Linked DNA regions of Homo sapiens. The protein of the gene in region 2 interacts with the protein of the main gene of each other region in a pairwise test. Each region holds a gene or a part of one and is shown on either strand. Other genes may lie near its edges.

What was found.
Region 1: the proteins of RABGGTA (region 2) and CHM interact in binary tests that used the Homo sapiens proteins (3 or more experiments, as listed by UniProt).

Annotation. Positions count from the first base shown.
Region 1 is NC_000023.11:86,041,059-86,044,558, forward strand, and holds part of CHM (rab proteins geranylgeranyltransferase component A 1), read right to left. Parts: intron 1-3,500. UniProt on the Homo sapiens protein: Substrate-binding subunit of the Rab geranylgeranyltransferase (GGTase) complex.
Region 2 is NC_000014.9:24,265,038-24,268,597, reverse strand, and holds the end of RABGGTA (geranylgeranyl transferase type-2 subunit alpha), read left to right. Parts: coding exon 1-84; intron 85-177; coding exon 178-229; intron 230-399; coding exon 400-488; intron 489-639; coding exon 640-728; intron 729-821; coding exon 822-938; intron 939-1,708; coding exon 1,709-1,822; intron 1,823-2,080; coding exon 2,081-2,168; intron 2,169-2,834; coding exon 2,835-2,983; 3' UTR 2,984-3,060; downstream 3,061-3,560. UniProt on the Homo sapiens protein: Catalyzes the transfer of a geranylgeranyl moiety from geranylgeranyl diphosphate to both cysteines of Rab proteins with the C-terminal sequence -XXCC, -XCXC and -CCXX, such as RAB1A, RAB3A, RAB5A and RAB7A.

The DNA of each region.
Region 1 (3,500 bases), on a different chromosome or scaffold from region 2:
GGGATTTTATGTTAAACATGAGAATGTAATGGTGGGCTGCCATATTTGAATTTAATTACTGTAGCCTGTTATCCAAAACATCATGAAAACACTGGAGAAAATGAGAAAAATGACATGAGGCATGGGAGATGAAAATGATGCTGCAGAGGAAATTATGGCAACAGATGTGGCTCTCTCTGAGGTATTGGCTCAAATTCATGATTTACAGAGAAGGGTAAGCATCTCCCAGAGAGTCTTCTCCAGAGTTAGATAACTCTTTACTTTTCTAGGTATTGGAAGCAAACAAAAACATACTTTTCCATCAATAAATGCCTGAAGAAGTGCAAAGCATTTTTCAGAACAGCAAAATCTGCAGGCTATCTTTCACTCCTATAGCATCTCTTACGCTGACAACGGAGTGTTTCATACTATACCTCAAATAAGACCGATACTAAATCTGTTCCAAAAACTATGAGGAAAACAAATGATAAATAATGCAAGCTGGTGAACAAAAGAGAAGACAACAAAGAAAGGACTTTTGAAATACCATTTCACTCCTACTCACTATGTCATTCAGCTGATCAATATACTCTATGCTTTAAATTTTTTGAACCTGCCCTCCCCAAAAACATATGTGTGTATGTGTGTTTATGTATATATATATATATGTTATATATATGGTGTGTGTGTATATATATATATATATATATATATATATATACATATATATATAAAAAACAACATTCATCCTTACTACATGCATTCTGATATATTCTACCTCATTTTTATAATGCTGGAATTCACTCCATGATCCACTAATAGGTGGCATCTTACAATTTTTAAAAATCCACTGTAGACAATAGATGTGAAGATTTTGGAAGTACACAGGGAGGACTATGGACATCCTGTGATGTGAGAACCACATTCAGGCATCCTGGGAGAAGATTAAGTTAGAAATATAGGAAATCACTTGTGTTAAGGCTGGCACAAACAGATATTTGGTAAATATCAGTTTTCACAACTCCTCCTGCAATATTACTATCCCCCAAGGCTTACAGAAGTGATGCTATTCCAACATCATCATAAGTCAATGAGCTGCCAGTCAAGGTTAACTACCTTAATGTTTAAATTCACCAACATCAAGGAATGGGACTGGAACATCCCAACATCAAGGAAAGGCTACTTAAGTGACCTTTTCTGAAAAAAGCAGCCTATCATTTTTAAGAAAATGCCTTTTCTAATCAGTCACTGTATTAGGCTGTTCCTGTGTTGCCATAAAGGAATGCCTGAAACTGGGTAATTTATAAAGAAAAGAGGTTTAATTGGCTCAGGGTTCTGCAGGCTGTACAAGCATGGTACAGGCATCTGCTCGGCTTCTAGGGAGGCCTGAGGGAGCTTTTAGTCATAGCAGAAGGCAAAGGGGAAGCAGGCATCTCCCTTGGTGAGAGGCAAGGCAAGCAAGTGTGGGGAGATGCCACACACTTTTAAACAACCAGTCGACCAGGCACAGTGGCTCCCATCTGTAATCCCAGCAATTTGGGCCACCAAGGCAGGTAGATTGCTTGAGTTCAGAAGTGCAAAACCAGCCTGGGCAACATAGGCAGACCCCATCTCTACAAAAATAAAAAAAAAAAAATTAGCCAGGCATGGTGATGCATGTCTGTAATCTCAGCTACTCAGGAGTCTGAGGTGGGAGGATTGCTTGGGCCCAGGAGGTTAAGGCTGCAGTGGGCCATGATTGTGCCACTGCACTCCAACTAGGGTGACAGAGCAAGACCCTGTCTCAAAAAAAAAATTAAAAAATAAACCACCAGATCCTGCAAGAACGAATTCACTATTACAAGAAGAGTACCAAGCCATGAGGGATCCACTCCCATGACCCAAACACATCCCATCAGGCCCCACCTCCGACAACGAGGATAACATTTCAACATGAGATTTGGGCAGGACAAATATCTAAACCCTATCAGCCATTTTTATAGGAAAATTTCTGAAGTATATGAAACACTGACTTTCCTTCTTAAAAAGACTACACAGAACAGAATTTAGCCTTTTCTCAAGGACATGGTGTCATAAATAGATATATACAATGGTAATTTTAGGGCTGGTAGATCCCTACCTTGGAGATCATCTATTGAAATTTCTCACTTTACAGATGAACTAAATGATGTCACAAGAAATTCTGTAATTTTCCCAAAATCACACAATAGGATGGTCATGTGATTATCATACACCATGCTGCCACATCTACTACTGTATGGTGCTAAACACTATCTAGCAAGATAATCAGGATTTAGGGGCAGTACTCCTTATAATTTCCATGTTTATCTTTGCTATCCCTTCTCTTTCCCCATAATCTTTAGCAATAAAACTTTTTTTTTTTTTTGAGATAGGGTCTTGCTCTGTTGCCCAGGCTGAAGTGCAGTGACACAACTATAGCTCACTGCAGCCTCAAACTCCCAGTTTCAGGCAATCCTCCCACCTCAGCCTTCCAAGTAGCTGGGACTACAGGCACGTGTCACCATACCCAATTAATTTTTGTATTTTTTTTGTAGAAATACAGTTTTGCTGTGTCACCCATTTCAGCTACTTGGGAGGCTGAGGTTTCAAACTCCTGAGCTCAAGCAATCCACCTGCCTCGGCTTCCCCAAGTGCTGGGATTACAGGCCTGAGCCACTGCACCTGGCCAATGAAACTTTTTTTTTTTTTTGAGACAGTCTCACTCTGTTTCTCTGACTAGAGTGCAGTGGTGCCATCTAAGCTCACTGCAACCTCCGCCTTCCAGGATCAAGGGATGCCTGTGCCTTAGCCTATAGAGTAATGGGGATTACAGGCCCGTGCCACCATGCTTGGCTAACAATAAAACTCTTAAATCAAAAGAATATATGTGTTTATCCTATGCAGTAGAAAAATTAAGCTAACCTACTCTGCAGCCCATCTTAGGGGAAGAACTCCAAAAGATGTGAGCAGTGTGCTTTTAAAAAGAAAAAATGCAGGCTGAATGTCTACATGGTCTTCAAAAAGAAAGAAGGATGCAATGAAAAGCCTACATTGTCTTAAGAACAGCTTTGGGGATATGACTGTTAGGAAGGCCAGAACGTTCCTGAGAATAGGCAATACAGTAAACTTCACAAGGGAAGGGACTAGGTTCTCAGTAAATGTGGGTTGAATGACCTGAAAAATGAGTATTTGTCACTACACTAAATGTTATCAGGCCTTTGTGATGTTTGATGTAAGTTTGCATTTTAGGTGTTTTTCTCTTCCCTTTCCTATACAAACTGTCATTTGTATGTCTAATAGCAACCCCACCAAACATAGTCTTTGCAGAAGTTGATAACATTCCTTGTATCTTCTAAGGGGGTGGTTCTAATATGCTGAGCTTGCTAGAATTATTTTTAAAATGAGGATGAATATGTTCTAAGTGATGATCTCAGGGATTCCCCTATGTATGAAGCATGTCAATATTATCATATAGATCTTATAACTTCCATCTTGACTGCTCTTCTGTTGAGTTCTTGGCT
Region 2 (3,560 bases):
CCCTCAACGACCAGTTGCCCCAACATACATTTCGCGTCATTTGGACAGCAGGCGATGTCCAGAAAGAATGCGTGCTTTTAAAAGGTGATGGAACCTGCAGCCTCCACCCCTTGCAGCAGCCCCCATCACTCTTTTCCTCTCAAGGGTGCACCCTCCAACCACCTACTCTTTCCCCAGGCCGCCAGGAGGGCTGGTGCCGGGACTCCACGACAGACGAGCAGCTATTCAGGTGGTGATAGGGAAGCACAAAACAAGGAGAGGGGCTCTGGACTCTGGGCATCAGGCAGCCAGGGCAGGAGGCTGGGGCCTCAAGGAGCTGTTTCAGTCTAGATACTGGGAATGTTGACCAGTGCTTCAGGGCTGTGGGCCTCAACTCCTCCCCACCCTGCCCACCCTCAGGTGTGAGCTGTCAGTGGAGAAGTCCACAGTGCTGCAGTCTGAGCTGGAATCCTGTAAGGAGCTGCAGGAGCTGGAGCCTGAGAATAAATGTGAGGCCCCATTCCGTGAGAGTCTGCTCCCAGAGCCCGCTGAGGAAACCCCTTTCCAGTGTGGCCCTGAGAGGACAGCAGGAAGGCCTCAGGAGGATGGGAGCAGAGGAGGTTCCAAGAGAAACCCTCCTTTTCCCTGCCCTCTCCTCAGGGTGCCTGCTTACCATCATCCTGCTGATGCGGGCACTGGACCCCCTGCTGTATGAGAAGGAGACCCTGCAGTACTTCCAGACCCTCAAGGCAAGTTCTGTCTGCAGAACAGACCAGGGGGAGGCCCAGCAGGCAGGAGGCAGGCAGCTGACATGCATACCCTGCCCACCTCATCCACTCCAGGCCGTGGACCCCATGCGGGCAACGTATCTGGATGACCTGCGCAGCAAGTTCTTGCTGGAGAATAGCGTGCTCAAGATGGAGTATGCCGAGGTGCGTGTGCTGCACCTGGCTCACAAGGTATGGGCTGCCATGCATGCCTTCCCCTGGCCCTCATCCCGCTGGCCTCCCCACGTCCCTGACTTTGCCCCCAGTCTCAGGTGCCTTTGTGGACTTCCAATCAAGATAGAGTTCATCCCTGCCTCCCAGCTTGCTCCTCTTCCAGGCCTTTCTGTCACTCAGCCCATTCTTCTTCTTGCCACTCACTTTCAAATCCCGAGTCACCAGGACCTCCTTGTGCTGTTTCTTCCCCAGGCTGGTCACAGCTTCATCTTCCTTCAGAGTGACCGCTAGCCCACTCCTCCCACACATTCCAGCACATCTCACCCTGGAGCAACCTCCAATACCTGAAGGCCAAATACTTTCCAGAGATTCCTGAGAAGTTGTCCAGGCTCCACTTTCCTAGTCCTTCCCAACACATTAGTTTTATCACATCACCACAGCCCACCTCCATTCCTGCCAAACTCATCTCTGCCTCATCAGGACCAGTCCCCATGGGGGACCAGTCTTTGTTTACCCAGCACCCTCCACTGGCCCCTGTACCTCCGAACTCCAGGCCTCCTCCTCCTCACCCACCCCACTGGTTACCCCACTCGCAGCACTGTCTGTCCCACGTCATGTACTGCTGTGGGCTGTAAGGTCAGCTTCCCACATGCTCCCATCCTCTTCTTGGCTGGGGTCCCCAAGGGCCTGTGGGGCACAGAGGGCATGTGCCTAATAAATGCTGGCCGAGGACCCTCTCCCAGGTCTCCTGGGAAGCCCATCACCTCCTTCCTCCCTTCACCCCCCAGGATCTGACAGTGCTCTGCCATCTGGAACAGCTGCTCTTGGTCACCCATCTTGACTTGTCACACAATCGCCTCCGAACCCTGCCACCTGCACTGGCTGCCCTGCGCTGCCTTGAGGTAAAGTACCCATGTCTCCGTCCCTGTCACGGGTGGTTCTTTTCCTCTTCCTCTCCCTCAGAAGTCTGCCCATCCTACAAGGAGATGTGCAGGACCCTCCACCCCGAACAGGTAACTGCGTGCCTTCCACCTCCATCACGCAGCCTGACCCTGTGAGCCCCTCTGTGCTCTGTGGACCCGTCACCCTGAGCTCCTCAGTTGCTGAACCATCCCTGGCTGACAGCGCCTGTCCTGCCTCCCTGCCCTCCCTGCCCCCAGGTGCTGCAGGCCAGTGATAATGCCATAGAGTCCCTGGACGGCGTCACCAACCTACCCCGGCTGCAGGAGCTGCTACTGTGCAACAACCGTATCCTTCCTTCTGGGTGCCTTTCAGACAGTGGGTAAAGTGAGGTGCCACCCTGGGAAGGGACAGACAGCAGGCAGGGTATGTGCCACCCTCTTGCAGGGCAGGAGAGAGGGGGCTCTGTAGTGTGAGTTGAAGGGGGAGAGCCTGGGGCTGTCGGGCTATCACTGACCTGCACTGGTGGAGTTGTGCGGAGTGGACTTCCTCAAGTCAGAGTTCACAAATGGGCAGCCCGCAGCTGTTCTTCAGGTCTATGTAGTTTTTTGAAAATCAGGAACTTTCATACTTTAAAAAACATCTAGAGTTCTAATTCCTCTCTTAAAAATTGGAAGTTAGAGCAACCTTACACTGGTATTTTCACTCAGCAGCCCTTGGTCATTGCTGAATAGTAAATGTCTCTTTGGACCAGGCTAGATTTCCACCTTATCATACCCTGCACCACTCCCCTGATACTACACCAGCTTGCGTGGGGTGTTGCGGCTCATTCTTTCCTGGCTGACCCTGTGGGTAGGCATTTGCAGTCCCTGCCTAGAGCCTGACTCCCTCCAGGGAGCATATGAGATGCCCATCAAACAGACTTCCAGGCAGCAGTCCCCAGCTCTTGAGGGTACACAGGAGCAAATAAATTGGGAGGAACCTGCCAAGCTTTCCTTGACTCTCCTGAACAAGGCCTCCAGCAGCCTGCAGTGCTCCAGCCTCTTGCCTCCTGCCCCAGGCTGGTCCTCCTCAACCTGCAGGGTAACCCGCTGTGCCAAGCGGTGGGCATCTTGGAGCAACTGGCTGAACTGCTGCCTTCAGTTAGCAGCGTCCTCACCTAAGAGGCCCTGCCCCCTACCCTTGCCCTTTAACTTATTGGGACTGAATAAAGAATGGAGAGGCCCTCTCAGGCTACCAAGCTGTTGTCGCTGCTATCACTACACCACCACCTTCATCACTTTTATTTTTTGAAAAGAAAGGGAAGAGACATGGGGTGTTGCCAGCTCCTTCTTTCTGCGCCATCCTATTGTTTCCTCTCAGAGAGAGCCAAGGCTTCAGTGTTTGGGGCAGAATTCAGGGTGAAGGCTGAGCTTTTGTTTACCTTCTGGTTTGGGGTGGGGGCTGGGACTGGGTCTAGATTCCAAGCAGGAATAGGGCTTGGGCTCAGGTTCTGGCTCTGGTAAGCTACAGAGCAGCTGTGAGTTTCTCCAGCTGGAAGCATCATACAATTTTTTCCCATGACCCCTGCACCTTCCACATGTTCCCCCTGCCCTGGCCCCCATTCACCATAGCTGGGGAGGCTCAAGGGCTCCACGTTCCCAGGAATGGGCCAGGGTGTCCTTGCTCCGTCCTGCCTGAACAACACTATCGGTCCCCATGAGTAGCATTCTACGGTTGAAGTACCTTTGAGAATACTTG